Regions from separate parts of the Homo sapiens genome. Here region 2 is linked to region 1. The links come from fine-mapping of genetic effects on gene expression. A gene starts in region 1. The other region holds a variant in brackets. All regions are shown on one strand. Distances are from middle to middle. Region 1 holds the start of WLS (Wnt ligand secretion mediator). Region 2 has its middle 33 kb from the start of WLS.

Region 1 (5,361 bases):
CCGCGGACTTTTTGAGGTTGTCGTCATTAACCAAATTCTTCGGGAAAAACAATCTTTGGCACCACTTACTCCAGACAAACCCTGTTTGGAACAGACAAGTGTTCTGACCCTATAGTCGCTCCAATGTCCACCAGCCACTCACGAGTGCCCTTAGGGCTTCTCCTTGGTGGTAGCATCCCAGAAATCCTACTAGTTTCAGAAGTGCCCTAGGAAGCCTACTTCTTGGATAATGGGCTCTGTCTGCAAAGCTAGGAGATCAGCCTAGAAAAAGAAACACACCAACAAACACCAGGAAACTATGTGTAATGGTTTGCTGCTTGTGCAAAAACCTCAAAGAGGATGAAGGTCAGACAGGGATAATAGGCCAATTTAATTCTGAAAGCACAAGGTGCAAGAAATTTTAATTATGGTCTGCCACTGAAATCACACAAGATCCAATGGCATCTAACTGCAACTGCTCATCAAGGGAGACAAGAGGTGTAATTGTAACCGCTGCATAATCACTGTGAGGGCACAGGGAAGGCTGCCTTCAGCTCCCAGCAGAGAAGGTATTAAGAGCCTCGAAAAATCCAATACGGGGAAACGAGATTGCATGTAGCCAAACAGAAGCTCCTAACACAAAAGCCAACCCGTGTGTGTGTGTGCGCGCGTGTGTGTGTGTGTGTGTGTGTGTGTTGAGGGTGAGGGTTCCAGAAAGAAAATGTGAAGCTGTTTGGCCCACACTGGGGATAAGAGATTGTTTGAAAACTCTGAACCCTTTTCTGTTTTGTGGATAAATGCACACAGAGAAAAGAGCACTGTCTCCTTTAGGTATTTCTCTCCTTGATGAAGCTTCACCCACTCTCCTTTGTTTAAGACAATTGGCTTGGATGTTACCGTGATTTACAGTACCAAACTCCCTTTAATTTGTTCCCATCAAACCCAAGTCTGGAGACAAAACGCCAAGCACACGACTGGAGGTGCCCAAGCCTGTGCAGCTCTGGCAGCGACGCCGCCGGCGCCCCCGGGCGTTTTCCCCGCACCCCACATCGCGTGGGCGCCCGTAAAGGCACGCGCGGAGAAAGCCCCTCCGTGGACTCCCCACTCCGCAAAGTTTAACAAAGCCGTGAAGTAAGGAAACCGAACCTCCCGTCCGCGCCCGCTGCAAAGTTGGCATTGAAGTTTGTGCCGGGATGTCCCAAATCTTGAGGGGGCGGGGGGCGCGAGTGTGCAGAGAGGCGGGAGGATGGATGCAGATGGGGAGACAGTGAGGGGAAGGGAGTTTTTCCGAGTGGACGGTCCGTGAGGCGGTTTTCTTCACCCGGAAGCCTGTTTGACTCAGAGAGGTCCGGGAGGTGCACGCCAGGGGAGGTCTCCCGGGGCGGGCGCTGTCGCCGAGGAGGCCGGCGAGCTGTCACCTGCGGGGGGCTGTGGTGGGAGCTGAGGGCGCTCTCCTAAGCGCCAAAAGAGGACGGGGACATTCACAGTCACCGGCTCTCGGGGCTCTAAGTAGTGGGGGAAGGGATATTCACGAGTGGGCAGGAGGCCAAAAGCAACACCTTTCGGATACGCTTTTCCCCTCCGACCTCTCCAACTTCCCGCGGCGCTGGTCAAGGACTCCCTCCCACCCCACCCCATCCCACCCAACCTCCCGGCCGACAATTCGGACCTGTCCACGGCAGAGCGTGGGGTGGAGTGCGGCGGGAAAGCAGAGGGCGCGAAGGTCGGGACCCCAAATTGCAAACCCTCAGCCCCTAGCAAAGACGACCAAATGCATTTACAACCGTGCAAGTATCTCAGCCTTGTAACAGAGCTCCGGGTTTGCGCCGGGCACAGTTCCCCGACTCTTCTGTTGTTCCTAATAAAGTCGATTACGTTGCCCTCCCGGAGCTGATTGGAAGGGAACCGAGAGGAAAAGGGGGGGAACGCGGGAAAAAGCGGGGGGGGGGGGGGGCGAGCAATCAACTTTGTAACCCAGCGCTTCCTCGCGCGATCCGTCGCCATGCTTAAGATTCCCACCCCCGCCGCCCCCCTCTTGCCTTTCAAGTGGATACTGAAACTAGGCCAAAACTTTTTCCCCTCCTTTTCTCTTAGCCACTAGACTGGATTGTGCCCCACGGAGCCCCATGGAGCTCTGCTTTCTTAAGCACAATAGCCGGACTAATTAGATCATAGAAGCAAGGCAGTGATACTGTAACAAGTAGCCCAAGAGGCAAAGAGGGAAGGGGCCCGAAAAGACAGAAAGGGGGAAAAGTTTGCAGCTCTCCGCACTTACCAATCAAGCCTCCCACCAGAAAGGCGATGATTTGGAACACGAGCAGAATCCCACCAACAATGCACAGCTTCTTGGTGCTCATGTTTTCTATAATTGCCCCAGCCATTTTTGCGCCCCCCCTTTTTCTTTTCTCCTTGAAATAAATGTTTTAGGGTGAGCTTTTTGCTCCCTCCTCTCACACACTCCCTCCTTCCTCGCCTCCTTTCTGGGCGCTGCAAAACTTCAGAGGTGCTGGAGCGCGGCGAGGATGGGACCGGGACGGAAGGCGCCCGCACGGATTCCCCCGGCGCAGCCGGCTCGGGTTCCCCCAATGCCCGGAGCTGTGATTGTGGCCGCTCCGCCGCCTGTGGACGCTTAAAGGAGCAGGGAAGCGGATCACATGACGCCGCCTCCCTCCCTTTCTTCCTCCCTCCCTCTCGCGCTTCCTCCCTCCCTCCCTCCCTCTCTTCCTCTACCCCTTGCCCACCAGTTCGGGGCTCAGAGCTCTGGCGGGTGCTGGCGCCTGGCTCCCGAGTCTGGCCTGCAACCTGTCTCTCCAAGGTCTGATGCCATTTAGGGGTTGCTGTTGATGTTAAGCGGGTTCCCCCTGCCCAGCTTCTCACAGGTTTCCTTTTCTGGTTTCCGAAGTGCGAGATTTAAATCACCGGTGGACCGCCTTGCAGACCTTTAACTTACGCGTTGACTTTAGGAAATGGTCCCCACCCCACCCCCAACTGCTAGAACTCTCTTTAGGAAAGAGGAGGAGAATTTTTTTTAAAAGGACCCAATAGATGCCTAAGTCAAAACACAGAGATGCGGAATAAAGTCTCAGCTCGACTTCTTTCTACCAGATTCCCAGCCTCGGTTATTGGGCACATACCCAGCTAAATTCCCCACGGCGCCCCTTGAGGAAACTTGCTCTCCAGCCAAATCAGACCACTGTTCGTTACTCCAGCACATGTGCTTCCACAGCCTTAACCCTGGTTATTGCCTTAAAGAGAACATGTTCTACTCCATCAATGTTAAACCTGATCCAAAACCAACTAGTGTTAAAAAATCTTTCTAATTTTCCACACCACCTCCATGCAGTATCTCTGGGAACTGAGCCCCTACAATCCTGTATTTACATTTTTACCTCCTATTGTAAGGATTTGTGTACACGTTTGTCTCCACCACTGAGCTGTAAACTCCTGGGGAATAGGGACCAAGTTTTTTTTGTTCTTTGTACCCCCCATGGTGCCTAACAAAATGCTAGCTCTAGTAGGTGCCCCATAATCTTTTGTGGAATGAATAAGTGAATGTGAAAGCAAGCCCACAGTTTGTATTTCAAAGGTCTAAAGAGATCTTAGTTGGTTTAGAGGGTACCTATATTAAGTTACAATGTTTGTTGTCTCTTTGTGAGAAATCATATATTTATATTTATACTTAACTTCCATAAAAAGAGGGGCGGGGCTCCCGATAGAGATTTCCTGCTCTATCAAGCCTAAATTTCTGGGCCTGGTTTTTCCATGTTTCATAAACTGGCCGCTTGGCCAGTACAACTCACCTTACTCAATAGACCCTTGGTTTGGTAAATACCCCACCCTGCTCCCCAAACGTGCAGTTTCTACCACCACCACCCACACATCTTGTTTCTTGTCCCTCCCATCCTTACACACCCTCTTCATGCCAAGAGACTATTTTTCCCAGTCCTCTCTCCTCCTCTACTCTGTTCCTGAATTTTCATTGCCCTTATAAAAGATGTCATGCAGGTTACACTTAATAGAAGCATTCATTTCTAATCTCCAAATAGAACAGAGACTTGTCAAGGACAAGCACCAAACTTTATGCATACAAAACTCCATCTCTTCAACATCTAATAGTTCTTAACAGTTCTGAGGATATACACATCATTATGTGTCACATAAGGATGTTTCAGTCAACAACAGACCGTGTGTGTGACAGTAGTCCTATAAGGTTATAATACCATATTCTTACAACACCTTTTCTATAGATATGTTTAGATACACAGAGTGCTTACTATTGCATTACAGTTGTCTACAGTGTTCAGTACAGTAACATGCCAGACAGGTTTGTAGTCTAGGAGCAATCAGCTACACGGTGTAGCCTAGGTCTGTAGTAGGCTATGCTACCTAGGTTTATGTAAGTGCCCTCTATGACATTTGCACAATGACAAATCACCTAACAACACATTCTCAGAAGGTATTCCCATCATTAAGCAATGCATGACTGTGGTTGCTGTTTATCTATTCTCTCATTCAACTCTTTATCCAAGTCACTTATTGAGCCTTTAACATGTTCCAGGCTTTCTTTCTTAAGCACTCAAGGATACCAAGATGTCAAAGTACTTGCACCTGCCCCAGAGGAACCCCCCCCCAGTCCAAATGTTATTCACTGAATAGTAATTAATTACCTCTACTTTGGCAAACACCAGGTACTATCAGAAAGGATGAAGTAGACAGAATTGTTGTCCTTCCAATGTCCTTCAGTTCAAAGTACTCAGATACCTTGGGGTATCATGTTCTGAGCCCAGCACTCCTAAGGGCCCATTTATCTTTCCTAAAAGTCATTTGTTTTCTCATAAATACACTTCTTCTCCTATTAAGATAGAATATAAGCTCCAAATTCTATTAACAACTGCCTCCTTGAGTGGTTATGAATGCCCACATACATTTGATATATGTGAACAAAAATTTGTCTTTTGCCTTGCTAATCTGTCTTTTGTCAGTTTAGTCCACAGACCCCCAAGCACTATGCATAAGAGGGTAGAGAAAAAATGGTGGGTTTTTTGTTTATTTATTTGTTTGTTTGTTTTTGAGACAGAGTCTCATTCTGTCGCCCAGTCTGCAGTGCAGTGACACGATCTTGGCTCACTGCAACCTCTGCCTCCTGAGCTCAAGCAATTCTCCTGCCTCAGCCTCCTGTGTAGCTGGGATTACAGGTGCCCACCACCACATCTAGCTAATTTTTGTATTTTTAGTAGAAATGGGGTTTCGCCATGTTGGCTAGGCTGGTCTTGAACTCCTGACCTCAGGTGATCCACCCACCTCTGCTCCCAAAGTGCTGGGATTACAGGTGTGAGCTACCACGCCTGGCCCCCGTCCACTTCAAATATAAACTGGATCCAT
Region 2 (5,381 bases), 33 kb after region 1:
AATCCTGGCTAACACGGTGAAACCCCGTCTCTACTAAAAATACAAAAAACTAGCCGGGCGTGGTGGCGGGCGTCTGTAGTCCCAGCTACTCGGGAGGCTGAGGCAGGAGAACAGTGTGAACCCGGGAGGCGGAGCTTGTAGTGAGCCAAGATCGCGCCACTGCACTCCAGCCTGGGCGACACAGCGAGACTCTGTCTCAAAAAAAAAAAAAAAAAAAAAAGGCACAACGAAATACTTCAGAATCTATAAAAGCTCTATATCTATACAATGAAAAAAGTTAGTATTCCTGCCTTTTGACATTTCTTCGACAATAACTCTTACTGATATCTTCTACCATTATTTTCCTTTTTATAAATTTATATGAAAAGCAGTTGGAAAGACATCACAGAGTGGTAGAAATAACCTATCATTTGCAGTCAACTGACATGGATTTGTGTCCTGGTTCCCATGATTACTTGCTATGTGACCTTAGGTAAATCGTTTAACCTTTGTGAGCCTTACTTTCCTATGATATAAGGTTACTAAATAATGCCAACAGGTTCCCCCTAGTCATTCATTGATAGATTAAGTTATTATTTCTATTATATGGCATGATTGCTAGTAATCTCCTAGTATCCATTCTTTTTTTGTCCTTTACTATGATATGCTAGACCCTACTAGAACTCCTGGCTACCAAAGATATTCCTCAGCCTTTCTTGTAGTTAATGGGATATGAGCAGAAGAAGCAAAAAGCATGTCTCGCCCTTGAACCCTTCCCCCTTTCTGCTTGGTGAAATGTTGACTGAGGAGACGGGTTGGGAATCTACCTTCAACCATGTAGTAGAGGACAACACCACCCAGAATGCAGACATAGAAGGAATCACAGAGAAATGGTGCCACTAAAAAGTATAAAAGAGTAGACATCGTTGAACTGGAGAATTAAAGAAAGACTAATTAAAACATCATAGTTGAGGAAAATAGAATAAGCCTGGTTTCCCCTTCAATTCCAAATTCCAACTTTTAATGGGCTTTTAACTTTATGAAGCTGTCTTACTATCCCATATTGTTAGACTGTCATATGAGAGAGATATACACTTCTATCTTATTTATACTACTTTTCATAAGTTGGGCTTTTGTTTAGCAGTAAAAGCTGGAATTTGGAATTGCAAGGGGAAACCAGGCTTATTCTCTTTTCCTCAACTATGATGTTTTAATTAGTCTTTCTTTAATTCTCCAGTTCAACGATGTCCACTCTTTTATACTTTTTAGTGGCACTATTTCTCTGTGATTTAAACAAACAAGGGATGTCCTAGTAGGAAACCATAATACATTCTCAGCATATTCTAATTATGACTGATAGTCAGCTTGTTCCTATGGTTGTTTGTAAGTATACAATGTCCCGAGTTTGTTTTACTAGAGAAATGTCCCTGAGTTCTATGTCCATGCTACAGTCATATATCACTAGCAGCTTTAATGACATGCTATAGTCAGAGTAAATGATCCTCAAGTATTTTTTTTCTATAAAAAGTTAACAACATCTTCAGTGAGTCAACCCATCCTTGTTCCCTGGCCATTACTGATTGAAGAAGACAAACTTGATGTGAGGGAGGCCAAGTACCTTGAGAAGACTTGGCAAAATCTCTGCCCAACAGAGGCACACAGAGAGGAGGAGACAGTGGAGGCTTTATCCTGAATTATGTTGAATTTTAACCCTGTCCTACATCCTATTCTTTAAAGTACAGGATTAGGGTCAAAAATAACTGACACCACGGCTGGGCACGGTAGCTCACGCCTGTAATCCCAGCACTATGGGAGGCCAAGGCGGGCAGATCACCTGAGGTCAGGAGTTTGGGACTGGCCTGATCAATATGGTGAAACCTCGTCTCTACTAAAAATACAAAAATTAGCCAGGCATGGTGGCAGGTGCCTGTAGTCCCAGCTACTTGGGAGGCTGAGACAGGAGAATTGCTTGAACCCAAGAGGTGGAGGTTGCAGTGAGCCAATATAGTGCCACTGCACTCCAGCCTGGGTGATGGAGCGAGACTCTGTCTCAAAACAAACAAACAAGCCAAAAAACTGATGGTACAGCTCTCCAGTCATAACCTCACCTTATTTTCATTACCTAAATTATTTGTAACAAACTCTCATTACCAAGGTAATCTGCTATTGACTATTCATTTGCAATCTTTTTGGGGTATTTTTTGGTTTTTTTTTTTTTTGAGACAGGGTCTTGCTTAGTTGCCCAGACTAGAGCATAGTGGTGTGATCACAGCTCACTGTAGCATCGACCTCCTGGGCTCCAGTGATCCTCCCACCTCAGCTTCTCGAGTGGCTGGGACCACAGGCATGCACCACCATATTCGACTAATTTTTTTACTTTTTGGAATGACAAGGTCTCACTGTGTTGCCCAGGCTGGTCTTGAACTCCTAGGCTCAAGCAATCCTCCCACCTCACTTAAGGAATGTTAAGAAATGAAAAGTGCTGAGATTACAGGGGTGGGCCTCCACACGTGGCTATTCATTGCAATCTTAAAGAAACTTACTCACAAATACATTAATGTCTGCTACTTCTACCTAATAATTGAGGAAAAAAGATGAAAAGAAAATACGATAGGTACAACCTAGACTTGGAGTTATACATCCTGGGCTACCCAGGACAGTCATAGGTTACACAACTGGATTTATATGCTGGATTTATACCCAGCATAATTGTTAATAATGCCCCTTTCAGGCTCAGAAGTGTTTCAGACGGTCACTCTAATGAGATTAGATGCAAAAGAGATCTTGTGTAAGGCAGAGGATACTTACATGTTGAATTGATGTGGGTATGACAGAAAAAGTTATGAAATTTTCTTTGCTGGAAGCTTCTAAAATTTATTATGCAACTGAATATTCTAAGAAAATGTGTCATATCCAAGGGGCTGAACAATAAATTTTGTTTCTGATGCTGTTAGAAGCAGGTAAGTTTTGAAATGTGTTCTGGGTAAACTGTTGGCCATAGGGATATATAAATTCATGTTATATATTAACACATCCAGAAGCTCCTAATT[C/G]ATGCTTGGATTATTTTAGTATTTGACCTAATGTCTTTAATGAAATCTTAGCTATGTTCTTGATTTTTGTTTATATTTGTTTTTTCTAACCATAAGCACATGTCAGAGTCCACTCAGTGTCACTAAAATAGTCTCAGAGTCATTTGCTGCTACCTCTCCTATCATCAGCAACTCTTACGAACAAGTCACAGAGGATGTGCAAGCAAAGCATGCCAGAGATTGAAAATTAAAAATGGAATGCTATCAATGATCCTTGACTTCTGATCCAATAGCTTTTTGCCAAAGCTGTTTTCATAGGTTTCAGTGCAATATCTGGCCCATACATCTACTTCTTGGTGTTACATTTCATTTCTATTGCTTAATTATATAAGCTCCTGGCTCCTTATTTTTCATGGTGCGAACTGCTGACTGTTTCCCAATATATCAGTTTTCTCCTTGTGTATGGTAATGTCAATTCCCTTCTAGATGGTAATATGGCTGCCCAGCTAGAGACTAAAGACATTCGTCAGTCCCTTTGAAGCCAAGTGTGGCCATCTTACTAAGTCCTTGACTATTGAATATGAAAAGAAGATGTGTATATTATTTCTACATAGTTTACTTAGTGACAACTTCTTGCCCTAGACTTGTTTTCTAACCCCTTACTGAAAACTGGAGAACAGATATGCCAGTCACCCAGCCTTGACCATTAAGATGATGACAATGCCCTGACACCTTGCTACTTAGAGTGTGCGCCTTGGACTAACAGCATTAACATCACCCGGAAGCTTTTTAGAAATACAGAATCTCAGGCCCCATTCCAGGCCTGCTAATGAGAATCTGCATTTTAGCATGATCCACCAGTGATTTAAATTCATGTTAACATTTGAGAAATACTGCCTTAATAGGGTATAATGGAACAACAAAATGGAAGGAATCTAGGTCTATTAATTATTTTGTTGAGCAGAGCTATCTACTAGCCTGGTCTGCCCACCTATAGACTGTTATGGGAAAGCACAGTGAAATTCTATCTTACTAAATCATTGAATTTTGGGGTCTCTTTTTGATCTCTATTCTAATTTATATAGTTTTTATTCCTTGTAATAAGAAACCTACTTTTTAAAGCTCTGCTAGAGTCTTGTGGAGAAAGAGATGAGAAAGAATGTTATTTCCTTTTGGACTATTCTGGAGTAGTCCCTCCACCCTTTAGAGAAGTACCTAAATTTAACTCAGGCTATGTTGATTTATCTAGGACTGGGTGAGTGGGGAGTGCTCTTACCCCATCCTCCTGAGCATTACTCTCCATATTCCAACCATCATTTTTGGTCTCCTTGAGGATGCTGACTTAAGAAACTCAGTATAAATATTAAATGAACTGAATACAAAATGTCTCCGGAGATGGTTTCATCATTTTTTTTTTCCAGAAGACCCAAATTTGAGCTGGCAGCATTAATCAAATAGACCACATTTATTATAAAGTACATTAGAGCATGCACGCTCTCCTTTTAATGTATAGACTCTCACCCACTATTTAACAACCATTTTCTCCTTACTTCTTCCTTTCCATTCCTAGTTTGGTAAATGTGTCCTCTGGACTTGCAATTCCCATACTTCAAACCAACAAACATTTACTAAATGCCTCTTAAGGCATTGTGCTAGGCATTAGGTTAGACGCTAGATATACAGTAGTGATTAAGAAAAAACAGATCTGAGGCCAGTCATGGTGGTTCACTCCTGTAATCCCAGCACTTTGGGAGGCTGAGGCAGGCGGATCACCTGAGGTCAGGAGTTCGAGACCAGCCTGGCCAACATAGTGAAACCCATCTCTACTAAAAATACAAAAATTAGCTGGGTGTGGTGACGCATGCCTGTAATCCCAGCTACTTGGGGGGCTGAAGCACAGGAATTGCTTGAACCCGGGAGGTGGAGGTTGCAGTGAACCGAGACTGCACCACTGCACTCCAGCCTGGGCATGATCTTGGCTCACTGCAACACTGCAACCAAAAAAAAAAAAAAAAAACGAGAAAAAACAGATCTGGCCTCTGGCCTCACGCATAGCTTACAGTCTAACTGGGCAGAAGATCAATGAACAAGTAATTACACAGCTGAAGAATTTTAAGAAATGAAAAGTACTTAAAAATTTTGTAGTAACATTTATTGACTGAATAAATGGAGAAAAATAAATTGAGAATTAAGCAGCTTTCCTCCAAGCCTCCAGGGCAACAAGGAACACTCCCTTATTTTCCCTTTCCTGCCTTCCTTCCTCATTGCTTTGGGTTCACATTGGTTCTTGTGCCTGTGAAAGAGGAGTTAGATAATTAATCAGCTAAAAATAAGGATTCACAGTTAATGCACTTGGAAAGGGATCGAAAAGGA

What was found.
Region 2: its variant is fine-mapped to the expression of WLS in whole blood (TOPMed, PIP 0.99).

Annotation. Positions count from the first base shown.
Region 1 is chr1:68,229,940-68,235,300 of GRCh38, forward strand. WLS (Wnt ligand secretion mediator) reads right to left here and starts at 2,584. Exons shown (of 12, transcript NM_024911.7): 1 at 2,255-2,584. The coding sequence starts at 2,360.
Region 2 is chr1:68,262,515-68,267,895 of GRCh38, forward strand. No RefSeq gene overlaps it. Among named protein-coding and RNA genes, the nearest start is that of WLS, 33 kb to the left of the region's middle. The variant C/G (reference allele first, on the strand shown) is at 3,030.